4 linked regions of the Homo sapiens genome follow. The protein of the gene in region 2 purifies or fractionates together with the protein of the main gene of each other region. This does not show direct contact. Each region holds a gene or a part of one and is shown on either strand. Other genes may lie near its edges.

The links. The genes of interacting proteins can lie anywhere in the genome.
Region 1: the proteins of KLHL29 (region 2) and SFXN2 purify together in Homo sapiens (affinity purification with mass spectrometry, with the first as the bait; one large-scale study listed by BioGRID). This does not show direct contact.
Region 3: the proteins of KLHL29 (region 2) and ZBTB21 purify together in Homo sapiens (affinity purification with mass spectrometry, with the first as the bait; one large-scale study listed by BioGRID). This does not show direct contact.
Region 4: the proteins of KLHL29 (region 2) and WARS1 purify together in Homo sapiens (affinity purification with mass spectrometry, with the first as the bait; one large-scale study listed by BioGRID). This does not show direct contact.

Annotation. Positions count from the first base shown.
Region 1 is NC_000010.11:102,735,136-102,738,635, forward strand, and holds part of SFXN2 (sideroflexin-2), read left to right. Parts: intron 1-726; coding exon 727-774; intron 775-2,527; coding exon 2,528-2,627; 3' UTR 2,628-3,500. UniProt on the Homo sapiens protein: Mitochondrial amino-acid transporter that mediates transport of serine into mitochondria. Involved in mitochondrial iron homeostasis by regulating heme biosynthesis.
Region 2 is NC_000002.12:23,692,679-23,696,178, forward strand, and holds part of KLHL29 (kelch-like protein 29), read left to right. Parts: intron 1-590; coding exon 591-850; intron 851-2,944; coding exon 2,945-3,143; intron 3,144-3,272; coding exon 3,273-3,455; intron 3,456-3,500.
Region 3 is NC_000021.9:41,993,361-41,996,860, forward strand, and holds part of ZBTB21 (zinc finger and BTB domain-containing protein 21), read right to left. Parts: intron 749-3,500; 5' UTR 736-748; coding exon 1-735. UniProt on the Homo sapiens protein: Acts as a transcription repressor.
Region 4 is NC_000014.9:100,333,290-100,337,347, reverse strand, and holds the end of WARS1 (tryptophan--tRNA ligase, cytoplasmic), read left to right. Parts: intron 1-145; coding exon 146-286; intron 287-2,311; coding exon 2,312-2,473; 3' UTR 2,474-3,558; downstream 3,559-4,058. UniProt on the Homo sapiens protein: Catalyzes the attachment of tryptophan to tRNA(Trp) in a two-step reaction: tryptophan is first activated by ATP to form Trp-AMP and then transferred to the acceptor end of the tRNA(Trp).

The sequences.
Region 1 (3,500 bases), on a different chromosome or scaffold from region 2:
CCTCCAAGTTGCTCCTCTCCCTCCTCATCCCTCCTCCCCTCTGTGTCCTTCCTCCCTCTCCATGTTGCTCCTCCCCTCCATGTCCTTCTCCCTCTCCATGTTGCTCCTCCCTGTCCAAGTAGTTCTTCCTACTCCAAGTAGTTCCTTCCCTCCAAGTCACTCCTCCCCCTTCAAGTCGCTCCTCCCCATCCAAGTTGCTCCTCAACCTCCAAGTCATTCTTCCCTCTCCAAGTCGCTCCCCACCCTCCATGCTGTTCCTCCAAGTTGCTCCTGTCCCTCCATGTCGCTCCTCCCCCTCCATGTCCCTCCTCTCCCTCCATGATGCTCCTCCCCTCCATGTCGCTCTTCCCCCTCCATGTTGCTCCTCCCCCTCCAAGTTTCTCCTCTCCCTCCTCGTCGCTCCTTTCGCTCGATGCCAGCAGTGCCTGTGCTCCTTAGGCCTGCTGCTCACAGTCCCTGTTTACTTCATTGTCTTCTTCCTCTGCTTGAACAATGCAGTAAGGGTGGGAATGAGTGATGGGGGTCAGGAGGGTACTGGTTTTATCCCCCTGCCAGAATGAGTATCCTCGCACTGCGGGAACAGGAGGAGGGTTGGAGGGAGAGGATATGGTGCCAGCTGGGAAGGCAGGCCAGGTGCCTGGGCATTGCTCCTTTCCCTTGGGGATGGGGGATGGACGGGCCTGTGGGGAGATGTCCCCTGATGCTTTGGTTTCTCCTTTCTTGCAGCCTCATCTTCATGGTGCCAGTGGCGTGTGGGCTTTTCCCACAGAAATGGTATCTGCTGTTCATTCCTTACTTGGTTTAATTGACCATGCTGCCAGCGCGCTCCCTGATCTGCCTGCTGTCCAGAAGGAGACAGGGAAGGGGCAGGAAGGGCAGCACCTGTCTGAGGACAAGTGTCCATCAGCCTAAAGGCTGGGCCTCTTAACCCTGGTGAATTCTGACAAACGAAAACAGATCTGCGAGGGGCAGGAGAAGCCAGGGACAGGAATAAGGTTGCTCCCTCCCAGTGGAGCAAGCACTGCCTTGAAGAGAAGGTGGGGGAGCAACAACAGACTTTCTCTTCCTGCCAGCTGGGTTATTAGGAAGCTCTCCTCTGGCTGGATCTGGTTTTTAACTTTTTTTTTTTTCTTTTTTTTGAGATGGAGTTTCACTCTTGTTGTCTAGGCTGGAGTGCAGTGGCACGATCTCGGCTCACCACAGCCTCCGCCTCCCAGTTCAAGTGATTCTCCTGCCTCAGCCTCCAGAGTAGCTGGGATTACAGGTGCCTGCCACCATGCCCAGCTCATTTTTTTTTTTTTTTTTGAGATGGAGTTTCACTCCGTCGCCAGGCTGGGGTGCAGAGGTGCAGTCTCGGCTCACTGCAACCTCCGACTCCCTGAACGATTCTCCTGCCTCAGCCTCACGAGTAGCTGGGATTATAGGCACGTGCCACCACGCACAGCTAATTTTTGTATTTTTAGTAGAGACGGGGTTTCACCATGTTGGCCAGGATGGTCTCAATCTCCTCACCTTGTGATCCGCCCGCCTCAGCCTCCCAAAGTGCTGGCACTACAGGCGTGAGCCACCGCGCCTGGCCTCATTTTGTATTTTTAGTAGAGATGGGGTTTCACCATGTTGGCCATGGTTGGTCTTGAAATCCTGACCTCAGGTGATCTGCCCGCCTCAGCCTCCCAAAGTATTGGGATTACAGGCGTGAGCCACCGTTCCCCGTTGGTCGTTAACATTAAATAAGGGGGCTGGTCGTGGTGGCTCACGCCTGTAACCCCAGCACTTTGGGAGGCCGAGGTGGGCAGATCACCTGAGGTCGAGAGTTCAAGACCAGCCTGACCAACATGGAGAAACCCCGTCTCTACTAAAAATACAAAATTATCTGGGTGTGGTGGTGCATGCCTGTAATCCCAGCTACTTGGGAAGCTGAAGCAGGAGAATTGCTTGAACCTGGGAAGTGGAGGTTGCGGTGAGCCGAGATTGCACCACTGCACTCCAGCCTGGGCAACAAGAGTGAAACTCCATCTCAATAAATAAGTAAATAAATAAATAAATAAATAAAGGGACAGGCAGAGGGCTGACAACCGAAACCCCTCTATTTCCTTTGTGTGTCCAAGAAGGAGGAAGCAGGGAGAAGGGATGATGGAAAAGGGAAGGGATACATCAGACTAGGGGGTGGAGGGTGACTGACCCCAGGAGACAAGTGTAGCTTGAATATATACCCAGACAATTCCAGTCTCCCCTTCCTCAGTACTCTAGTTCAATACTACTTCCATGGTCATCTGCTAGACATCTCTTGTGTCCCAAGCACTGTGTTTGTAATCTTGTGGAGAAGATGGAAGTTGAAACGAAGAACCATAGCCCAAGGAGAATGAAGTCAGGCCTGCGTAATGGTAAAGCAACATTGTGGTATACAGAGGCCAATAATAATCCTAGATGGAAAAATCAGGAGGGCTTCTTGGAGGTGATATTCATCTGAGGGTAACTTACTGCTTGTTCCTGGTGGCATGCTCATAATCCACTTCTCTCTTTTCAGTGAATTGCCAGTTTCCTATCTGGAACCGAAGCTCCAAGACACTATCAAGGCCAAGTATGGAGAACTTGAGCCTTATGTCTACTTCAATAAGGGTCTCTAAATGCCCCACTTCAGCAAGGACCAGTCTATTCCCATATTCACCAGCTCCTCCTTAGCTACGTGCACACTTGTGTCCTCCTTCCCCTTTGCCAACAAGGCCTGAAGGCCAGGGTAGATTGGGGGGTGGGACAATGAATGCCTCATACTTACACCCTGGTACTGGTTGATTGGACCTCAGGGGAAAAAAGTGAAAAAGGGTAGCAAAGGCCAATGTCTTCTAGCTGCTTCCTCAACCCCTGTCCCCTGGAGACCAGAAGCTGAGGCCCTCTCAGGGAGGAGACATCCAAGCAAATCATTTGGAAAAGTTAGGAAACCTTTAGGATTCTGGTTCCAGCCAGGGTTGAGGAAAAGACCTTGGATCAAAAGGAAGCTTCTATACCTCTTTCTTCTTCGCTTCCTCCTCTCCCAAGCAATGGAAACTTTTACCCATGTAATTCTAGCTGAACTCAGGAAAAAGAAGGGGGAAAGGACTCTGTCCCCTTGGGGCTCATCACCCTTCCACATCCTCCTCCTCGTTGCCCCCTGGTCAGGCAGCTTCTTTTTTTTTTTTTTCAAGATGGAGTCTTGCTCTGTCGCCCAGGCTGGAATGCAGTGGCGCGATCTCGGCTCACTGCAAACTCTGCCTCCTGGATTCAAGCGATTCTCCTGCCTCAGCCTCTCAAGTAGCTGGGATTACAGGGCACCTGCCACCACGCCTGGCTAATTTTTGTATTTTAGTGGAGACGGGGTTTCACCATGCTGGCCAGACTGGTCTCGAACTCCTGACCTCAGGTGATCCGCCCGCCTCAGCCTCTGAAATTGCTGGGATTACAGGCATGAGCCACCACACCCAGCCCGGACAGCTTCTTTGGGAGTGCTGCTAACCTTGAAATTA
Region 2 (3,500 bases):
CAAGGCCCTGGGAGGGACAGTATTGGGTAAACAGGATACGGAGATGGCTCCCACCCCAGACCTAGCCACTAAGCCCAGGAGAGCTGGCCAGATGGACCCCAGAGCCTAGCGAGCCAGATTGAGTGGGGCAGAAGCCTATGCAAGAAGCTGGGAGGTGTGTGAGGGGCACTACTGCTAACGAAGGAGTCTGGGACCACAGACATGCCTGGCACAACATGGAAGATGCTGTAAGCCTCAGTGCCACCCTCAACCTCAGCGACAGTGTGACTCCTGACGCCTGACCCCAGCCCAGGCCCAGGCTCTGAGCAGGGCTCTCCTGCTCCATGCCTCCCAGTCTCGGTCCTTCTGCCAGGACCTGTGCGCACAGAGGGAGGCCCCTGGGAGTCAGCATGAAATGGGGTAGGGGAGAACCCAGGAGAAGGATCGAAGCCTCCAGACACCCAGGAAGGGGGCCTGCAGGGACTCTGGACACTGCAGTCAGGGTCCCCCGGGATGTGGGTTCAGAGAAGGATCTAGGGTGACAGCAATGGGAACAGGTGGCAACTGCTTCCCGGGCCTTTGGGTCAGTGGTCCTGCGCTGTCGCCCCCAGAGAAGCAGCTGACGGCCAGCAACTGCCTGGGCGTGCTGGCCATGGCCGAGGCCATGCAGTGCAGCGAGCTCTACCACATGGCCAAGGCCTTCGCGCTGCAGATCTTCCCCGAGGTGGCCGCCCAGGAGGAGATCCTCAGCATCTCCAAGGACGACTTCATCGCCTACGTCTCCAACGACAGCCTCAACACCAAGGCTGAGGAGCTGGTGTACGAGACAGTCATCAAGTGGATCAAGAAGGACCCCGCGACACGCACACAGGTGGGGCCTGCCCTGTCCCCCGCCCCTTCTCTCTGGGTTTGGGGTCCCCCTGCGGCAATGGGGTCTGCAGCAAGGAGGAAGGAAGTGAACCTTCCTTGTCCTGCTCTCCCTAAGTGGCAGAGAGGTGAAGGGCGGGCAGAGAGGTGAGAAACCAGTCACCAAAGGATCCTCAAGGGCTGGCATTCCACCCCAAAGGAGACCCAAGTCGGCCAAGAGCCGCAGCACCTGCACTCTGCAGGGAGAAGTGGGTCCCTGAGCCAGGGGGCTCTGGGGCTCCCAGGAACACGGACCCAGCTGGAGGAGCCCATACCTGCTCTGATTGTTGAGGGGATGGACAGCCCGCAATGGACCAAATGGAAACCCCTGCATGCAGGAAGAGGGAGAGTGAGGTCCTGAGGGGACTGTGTTGGGTAAACAGAGGATACAGAGAGGGCTCCCGCCCCAGATCTCGCCATTGAGCCCCAGAGAAAGGGGTCCTCAGATCAGGTGGGAGGCAGGGTTTCTTTTCAGAGGTAGGAAGTTAGATGGGGCAGCTAATAACAGTGACAGCCACAAGTCCCTATGACTCCCAGATCTGTGTCTCAGGCTGAAACCCTTTCCTGAGCTCCAGACCCCTCTGCTCAGTGGCCTTCTGGGCCTCTCCAGCAGAATGTCCTGCAGATCCGTCTAATTCACCAAGCCGAAAGCCTACACCTCTTCCTGTTCCTTATTTCAGCGATGCCTGGTCCCCAGAACTGAAGCTTAGCTTCCTCCCACTTCTCCCATAGCCATTTCGCTACACGCGCTCATTCCTGCCTCCTTCCTCCCCTTTAAGTGGATCGACTTCCCTCTCCCCATCGAGACCTTCCTCCTCTCGCCAGGATTACTGCAGCACCTCCTAAGTGGTTTCCTTGCCTCTGTCTTGCTCCCTCCAAATCCATTTTCCACCCTCCAGCCTGAGCGGTCTCTCTAAAAGCACACTGAACATCTCATCCATCCACTCAAACCCCTCCTCAGTTGCCTCGTCGACTCCACAGGGGAAACTGTGCAGTCCTTGTTGAGCATGAGCATGAGCTGGCCTCCCCAGCCTCTCTCCTCTCACTTCTCCCTGTCTCCCTAAACGCCTCCTCAACAAAATCCTGTTACATCTCGTAAGAATAAACCCCAGACAATTCTCCAGACACACCATTCTCTTTCACTCTCTGACGCCTCTACACGGGCTTCGAATGTCCACCCTCCCATCCACCTTGTGCCTGGCAGAAGTCTGCCCATTTTGTATACCCCATCCAGATGCCATTCCCTCTGCAAAACCTCTTACTCCTGCACCCACTACAAACCCTCACTAGACACTCCTCTTGCCCCTCGTGAATTTTTCATAGCAGATCCCCTCCCATTAAACTGTGTACCCCTTGAGGTCTGAAACTGGGTCACAGTGGTCTCTGCACCCCCAGTGATGAGCGTCATGCCTGGCCTATGGTGGTCTCGTTACTCATGGGATGAAACGAAAGTAGAGTGATGAGCAGAGTTTGTTAGGAGGGGAGATTCAAGGGAGCCTGTAAAACCACCTCAGTGCAGGGTGACAGTTTGAGGCCGTGGGACATGGGACACCACTGAAAGTTTTCGGTGCTGGAGAGACACAGGCTCCCACGGCTGAGACTTACAAGCTCAATAGTCGCCATCTCCTTGAAGCTTTCCTGGGTCCTCCCACCTGTTCCTGAGTCCTTGTCACACTCACAGCTCTTTAATAATCGCGTCTTCCTCATTTTAACCCCTCGCCCCTGCCCCCAGTGGCCTGATCTGCAGCAGGGGTCCACAGCCCCAGGTGGAGTGAGAGAATGGGGTGCTGGGGGGATGAACACATGCTCCCACTCCTGCAGGGCTGGCTGCAGCCTGCCAGCCTCCCCTCCGCACCCCTGCGCTCCCGGCCCTCCCCTCCACACCTCCAGCTGACTAGACTTCCCTTCACCTCTGTCTAGGCTAGCAGAGTATCTACACTCCCAAGCCTAACACAGCCTGGAATTATCCATTCTTGTGCAGCCCCACACCATTTCTTTCCGTCCGGGAGGTGGCTCTCTCTTGCTAGTCTAAGAAGATTCTGTCTCCTGTACCCTGCAGTACGCGGCTGAGCTCCTGGCCGTGGTCCGCCTCCCCTTCATCCACCCCAGCTACCTGCTCAATGTGGTTGACAATGAAGAGCTGATCAAGTCATCAGAAGCCTGCCGGGACCTGGTGAACGAGGCCAAACGCTACCATATGCTGCCCCACGCCCGCCAGGAGATGCAGACGCCCCGAACCCGGCCGCGCCTCTCTGCAGGTATGAAGGGGCACGCCCCGAACCTCCCAAGAAGCAGTGTCTTGGGCTCAGTGGTTCCAGTGAGGTGCCAGGCACAGATGCCGACAGTCTTAGAGTGTGTCCCAAGGGCGCCCATCCATGTCCCTGCAGGTGTGGCTGAGGTCATCGTCTTGGTTGGGGGCCGTCAGATGGTGGGGATGACCCAGCGCTCGCTGGTGGCCGTCACCTGCTGGAACCCGCAGAACAACAAGTGGTACCCCTTGGCCTCGCTGCCCTTCTATGACCGCGAGTTCTTCAGTGTAGTGAGTGCAGGGGACAACATCTACCTCTCAGGTGAGGCCCCCCGGGGTTGGGGCGGGACCAGGCATGGGGGTCCCA
Region 3 (3,500 bases), on a different chromosome or scaffold from region 2:
AGGCTTTGAAGGCAACACTGCATTTCTTTTCACCAAACTGATTCTATTAGGATCATCCAAAGATCCAGAATGCTCAAGAGACTTTGCATATACCACAGAACTATCTTTCGGCCAACTCTTTTCAGTTAATGACAAATTATGAAGTGGTTCTATTGGTTTTGGGACATGTGGCTTATTGGTATTGGCCTTGACTGCAATGCTAGGAGAGGGCCGGGAAGTATGGCTTACATCGGGTTGATTTTGACTAACAGTTTTTCCTTGCGCTTCGTTTCTACTTTGACAAACAATGACACTTCTCTTTTGAGAACTGTTTTCATCATCTTCTACAAACACTTTTTTTCTATTAGGACACGTTGGAAAGGGGGCTTGAGGTGTTTTAGAAACGATGTTAGTCAGAAAGGAAATCCCAAGACTATAGCCAAGTTCTTGCACAGCAGCAAGGCTGCTCTTCTCAACAAATAGAGAGGAAGAATAAATGTAGTTTAAAACATTATCAAAAGCATCTGGCTCACAGAAGTCAAGCTGAAATACAGTTTGTGACTCATTTTCCTTATTTGTGAATAAACTCTGAAAGTATTCGCTGCTGGCAGCCAAGACGTTTTTATGAGCTCGGAACTTTTGGTCTCCAACAATCAGCAGCACATCACACAGCTGTCCTTTGAGACGCTCCTCATTCAGGGCACTTAGGAGAGAAATGGCGTGTGCAGGGTTGATGTAATGCAGTAATCCCTCCATGGCTTGAGTTTATCTAAAAGACAAAATGTAAAATTACTACAGATATTGCAGTGAAAAGTTCCCCTGGCTCCTCAAGAGCAGGGAACATCAGCTGTCTTTGCATAGGTACCAATATTTAGCAGACCGTAGGCTAACAGAAGCTCTATGAATGAACAATCTTATTTAAATAATGGTGAAAATGTAAAATAAGTCTCGTGGTTTAAGTAGGTCCTCATTAAAATAGAAGAATTGCAGGAACTATAATATAGGCATTTGTATATCATCAAAAAGGCTGCCAGAACTTGGCAGGTAGATATGGAAGCAATATTTGAAAATAAAGGTTTATTATTTAGGGTCCTTATCCATTTGATGCTTGGCACTATTCCTTACCAATTCAGAAAACAAGTACGAATTATCAAACCCCTGAAGTCTATAATTCTGAAAGAAAATCAGCTTTATTACTACATATACTTAAACATAATGTGAACTGTTAACAATTGGTTGCAAAGCAGGTCTTGTGAGACCCTTGTTTTTATTTTGAGACAGGGTATCTCTCTGTCACCCAGGCTGGAGTGCAGTGGCACCATGATGGCTCACTGCAGCCTCAATCTCCTGGGCTCAAGCAATCCTCCCACTCAGCCTCCTGAGTAGCTGGGACCACAAGCACATGCCACCTTGCCAGGTGATGCGGTTTGGTGGTGTCCCCACCCAAATCTCCTCTTGAATTGTAACTCCCACAATTCCCACGTCGTGGGAGGGACCCAGTGGGAGGTAACTGAATCATGGGGGTGGGTCTTTCTCGTTCTCTTCTCATGATAGTAAGCCTCATGAGATCTGATGATTTTATAAAGAGGAGTTCCCCTACACAAGTTCTCTCTTCCCTGCTGCCATGTGAGATGTGACTTGCTCCTCCTTGCCTTCCACCACGATTAAAAGGCCTCCCCAACCACGTGGAACTGTGAGTCCACTGAACCGCTTTTTCTTGTAAGTTACCCAGTCTTGGGTATGTCTTTATTAGAAGTGTGAAAATGGACTAATACAGTAAATTGATACCAGTAGAGTGGGGCACTGCTGAAAAGATACCCGAAAATGTGGAAGCGACTTTGGAACTGGGTAACAGGCAGAGGCTGGAACAGTTTAGAGGACTCAGAAGAAGACAGGAAAATGTGGGAAACTTTGGAACTCCCTAGAGACTTGCTGAATGGCTTTGACCATAATGCCAATAATGATACAGACAATGAAATCCAGGCTGAGGTAGTCTCAGATGGAGATGAGGAACTTGTTGGGAACTGAAGCAAAGGTGACTCGTTATGTTTTAGCAAAGAGACTGGTGGCATGTTGCCCCTGCCCTAGAGATCTATGGAACTTTCAACTTGAGAGAGATGATTTAGGGTATCTGGCAGAAGGAATTTCTAGGCAGCAAAGCATTCAAGAGGTTCTCAGGTGCTGTTAGAGGCATTAAGTTTTATAAGGGAAGTAGAGAATAAAAGCTTGGAGAAGTTGCTGCCTGACAGTGCGATAGAAAAGAAAATCCCATTTTCTGAGAAGAAATTCAAACTGGCTGCAGGAATTTGCCTAAGTAAGGAGGAGCCGAATGTTAGTCACCCAGACAATGGGGAAAATGTCTCCAGGACATGTCAGACCTTTGCAGCAGCCCCTTCCATCACAGGCCCAGAGGTCTAGGAGGAAAAAATGGTTTTGTGGGCCAGGCCCAGGGCCCCCTTTCTGTGTGCAGCCTAGGAACTTGGTGCCCTGTGTCCCAGGTGCTCTAGCCATGGCTGAAAGGGGCCAAGGTACAGCTTGGGCCATGGCTTCAGATGGTGCAAGCTCCAAGCCTTGGCGGCTTCCATGTGGTGTTAAGCCTGCAGGTGTGCAGAAGTAAAGAACTGAGGTTTGGGAACCTCCGCCTAGATTTCAGAGGATGTATGAGAACACCTGTATATCCAGGAAGAAGTCTGCTGCAGGGCTGTGTCCCCTCCATGAGGGGCAGGGCCCCATGGAGAAACTTCTGCTAGGGCAATGCAGAAGGGAAATGTGGGGTTGAAGCCCCCACATAGAGTCCCCACTGGGGCACTGCCTAGTGGAGATGTGAGAAGAGGGCTACCATCTTCCAGACTCCAGAATGGTAGATACGTCGACAGCTGGCACTGCGTGCCTGCAAAACTCACAGACACTCAATGCCAGCCCATAAAAGCAGCCAGGAGTGGGGGCTATACCCTGCAAAGCCACAGGGGCAGAGCTGCCTAAGACCATGGGAGCCCACCTCTTATATCAGCTTGACCTGGATGTGAGACATGGAGTCAAGGGAGATCATTTTGGAGCTTTGAGATTTGACTGTCCTGCTGAATTCTGGACTTGCACCGGGGCCTGTAAGCCTCTGTTTTGGCCAATTTCTCCCATTTGGAACGGCTGTAGTTACCCAATGCCTGTACCCCCACTGTATCTGGGAAGTAACTAACTTGTTTTTGACTTTGCAGGCTCATAGGCGGAAGGGATTTGCTTTGTCTCAGAAGAGACTTTGGTCTGTGGACTTTTGAGTTAATGCTGAAATTAGTTAAGACTTTGGGGGACTGTTGGGAACGCATGATTGGTTTTGAAATGTGAAGACATGAGATTTGGGAGGGGCCCAGGGTGGAATGATACAGTTTGGCTGTGTCCCCAGCAAAATCTCATTTTGAATTGTAGCTCTCACAATTCCCCACATCTGGGAGGCACCCAGTGGGAAGTAACTGGATCATGGGGGCAGGTCTTTCTTATGCTCTTCTTGTGATAGTGAATAAATCTCA
Region 4 (4,058 bases), on a different chromosome or scaffold from region 2:
CCAACCGGCTGTGCGCCTTGGCCTTTCCCGGGTCCAGAATCTGACAGCACTCACACCTCTGACTTCCACACTTGGGCTTCTAGCCAGTGTCCAGGCACAGGATGAGCAGGACTGAGGAGCGTGTCTGTGTCCTCTTCTGGTGCAGGTCAATAAGCATGCGTTTTCTGGAGGGAGAGACACCATCGAGGAGCACAGGCAGTTTGGGGGCAACTGTGATGTGGACGTGTCTTTCATGTACCTGACCTTCTTCCTCGAGGACGACGACAAGCTCGAGCAGATCAGGAAGGTGAGCAGGGAACCCCAAGGGCCCACAGCCGCCTTCTGCCACCCACTCCTGCCCATGGGGCCTGGAAGGCTCCAACAGCCAGGCATGAAGGCTTGGTCGGAGGTGCTCAACTGAAACAAGGTGAAAACTGAGTAGACTCGCCCTCATGGTTTTTAGGCCTGGGCTCAGAAGCCTCATGAACAAATCTCGAAAGAGCAGATACAAATCACTATTCATTTAGGAGCCACCCAAAACAGTCTTGCTTTATTAGTCATCAGAGAAATGTAAGTTAACGTGATCAAAGCTAAGACAGTTGAGTATAGAATTAGTAGGGGCTTTTGTGTTGCCATTGACTATTTTCAGTGATTATGAAGCAGATGCTTCAAGGCACACTCAAGTGAGCAGAGTGTTTATCAGCACAGCCTCAGGAAGCAGTTTGGTACTGGGTACAAAGAGCCCAAAAATGTTCAGAGCTTCTCCTCAGGTTTTCTCATTCTTAGATTTTTTCCAAGGAAATAATCCTGAGTAAGAGAAAGCTTTCCACACAAAGATGTTAAAAATGATAATAGCAAAAAGTTCAACACAGACTCAGTACAACAGAGGAAACGTTAAATTAGAATTGTTACAGGGTGGATTATTATGCGGGCATGAACTATTTTAAGTGTTCATATGCAGGGCATGGTGGCACACATCTGTAGCCCCTGCTACTTGGGAAGCTGAGACAGGAGGATCCCTTGAGCCCAGGAGTTCAAATCCAGCCTGGGCGACATAGCAAGACCCTCATTTCTTTCTTTTTTTTTTTTTTTTGAGACAGAGTCCTGCTCTGTCACCCAGGCTGGAGTGCAGTGGCGCAATCTCGGCTCACTGCAAGCTCTGCCTCCCGGGTTCACACCATTCTCCTGCCTCAGCCTCCCGAGTAGCTGGGACTACAGGCACCCGCCACCATGCCCGGCTAATTTTTTTGTATTTTTAGTAGAGACAGGGTTTTACCGTCTTATTCAAGATGGTCTCGACCTCCCGACCTCGTGATCCACCCGCCTTGGCCTCCCAAAGTGCTTGGATTACAGCTGTGACCACCGCGTCCAGCCAAGACCCTCATTTCTTTTAAAAAAAAAAAAGTTTTAGTGACACAGGAAAATATGCCTATGATAGTGAAAAAAGGATACCAAATGAAAACTCAGGGAGGAGTTAACTATGTTTAAATGAAATGCACAGGGAAAGAAATGTGAAGAAAATCTACCAAATGTTAGCGGGAGACCCACCTCTGGGCATTTTTCAGGTGGGCAATTTGTAGGTGATTTTTCTTTACTTTGCTGCTGCTTTGTGGTTTGGGTACTTTATTAAATTTGCTTAATGAGCATGCAGTACAATCAGAAAAAGAAAAAATTAGCAAGATTTGGCTGGGCGCAGTGGCTCACGCCTGTAATCCTAGCACTTTGGGAGGCCGAGGCAGGTGGGGGGAGTGGATCACGAGGTCAGGAGATCGAGACCAGCCTGGCCAATATGGTGAAATCCCATCTCTACTAAAAATACAAAAATTAGCCAGGCGTGGTGGCAGGCACCTGTAATCCCAGCTACTCAGGAGGCTGAGGCAGGAGAATCACTTGAACCTGGGAGGCGGAGGTTGCAGTGAGCTGAGATCATGCCACTGCACTCCAACCTGGCAACAGAGTGAGACTCCATCTCAAAAAAAAAAAAATTAGCAAGATTTTACAGAAGCCATAAGGCTGCCAGGAATTGTTGTTGTTTAGTGCCTGGGGGAATGGCCCCTAGCATCGGTAGGGGTGGGGACTGCCCTCCCCATTGGCCCTTTCACTGTGAGAGGCCAAGTCATGGCTATCGTCAGAGCCAGGTTTCTAGCCGTTTTAGGAAAAGTGTAGCTGAAGGTATAGGTTATTGTTGTGGTAACAACAGATCTCACTTCTGAGTGCCACCCACGTGCCAGGCTCTGCATGGGTGGTGTGGGCTGAGCTGGTGCCCGAGGCAGGAAGGAGCCACTCAGGACATGTGGAGCCATCTCTCACGTGGCTGTCTCCCTCCGGGCAGGATTACACCAGCGGAGCCATGCTCACCGGTGAGCTCAAGAAGGCACTCATAGAGGTTCTGCAGCCCTTGATCGCAGAGCACCAGGCCCGGCGCAAGGAGGTCACGGATGAGATAGTGAAAGAGTTCATGACTCCCCGGAAGCTGTCCTTCGACTTTCAGTAGCACTCGTTTTACATATGCTTATAAAAGAAGTGATGTATCAGTAATGTATCAATAATCCCAGCCCAGTCAAAGCACCGCCACCTGTAGGCTTCTGTCTCATGGTAATTACTGGGCCTGGCCTCTGTAAGCCTGTGTATGTTATCAATACTGTTTCTTCCTGTGAGTTCCATTATTTCTATCTCTTATGGGCAAAGCATTGTGGGTAATTGGTGCTGGCTAACATTGCATGGTCGGATAGAGAAGTCCAGCTGTGAGTCTCTCCCCAAAGCAGCCCCACAGTGGAGCCTTTGGCTGGAAGTCCATGGGCCACCCTGTTCTTGTCCATGGAGGACTCCGAGGGTTCCAAGTATACTCTTAAGACCCACTCTGTTTAAAAATATATATTCTATGTATGCGTATATGGAATTGAAATGTCATTATTGTAACCTAGAAAGTGCTTTGAAATATTGATGTGGGGAGGTTTATTGAGCACAAGATGTATTTCAGCCCATGCCCCCTCCCAAAAAGAAATTGATAAGTAAAAGCTTCGTTATACATTTGACTAAGAAATCACCCAGCTTTAAAGCTGCTTTTAACAATGAAGATTGAACAGAGTTCAGCAATTTTGATTAAATTAAGACTTGGGGGTGAAACTTTCCAGTTTACTGAACTCCAGACCATGCATGTAGTCCACTCCAGAAATCATGCTCGCTTCCCTTGGCACACCAGTGTTCTCCTGCCAAATGACCCTAGACCCTCTGTCCTGCAGAGTCAGGGTGGCTTTTCCCCTGACTGTGTCCGATGCCAAGGAGTCCTGGCCTCCGCAGATGCTTCATTTTGACCCTTGGCTGCAGTGGAAGTCAGCACAGAGCAGTGCCCTGGCTGTGTCCCTGGACGGGTGGACTTAGCTAGGGAGAAAGTCGAGGCAGCAGCCCTCGAGGCCCTCACAGATGTCTAGGCAGGCCTCATTTCATCACGCAGCATGTGCAGGCCTGGAAGAGCAAAGCCAAATCTCAGGGAAGTCCTTGGTTGATGTATCTGGGTCTCCTCTGGAGCACTCTGCCCTCCTGTCACCCAGTAGAGTAAATAAACTTCCTTGGCTCCTGCTCTTGTCATTGTGCTCTGTCTGGGAGGTCTGAGGAGGGAGCAGAGACCCCTCCCCTCACCCTTCTGTGGATGACCTTGAGTCTGCTGGAGTCAAAATTTGGGGATGAAAGCGCACAGTCCCAGGAACCCCATGGTGTTGTGCCACAGCTCCCAGGAATGGGCTTGTGCTGGGAGAGCCCTTAGCAGCATCCTGGTGCGGGCTCCCTCTCACACCACATTTCTCATTTCCAGCAGCTGATGGAGAATGCAAGCAGAGGTTGTCCTCGCTTTTCAGAGGAGGGGCTGGCCGTGGGGTGCTTAGTGGTGCTGTGTAGTGACGGGGAGCACAGGCTGGGAGCCAGGTCGGGCCCCATTCACATGAGGCCCAGGGCAGAGGCCGAGCTGCAAGGGAGCCCTGGGCTCATTCTACCGGCCCATCCTTATTTTGCAAGTAGGGAAACTGAGGCTTAGGAGAGGAGAACATGACTTGTCCAAGGCCATAGGGTGACTCTGATACAGC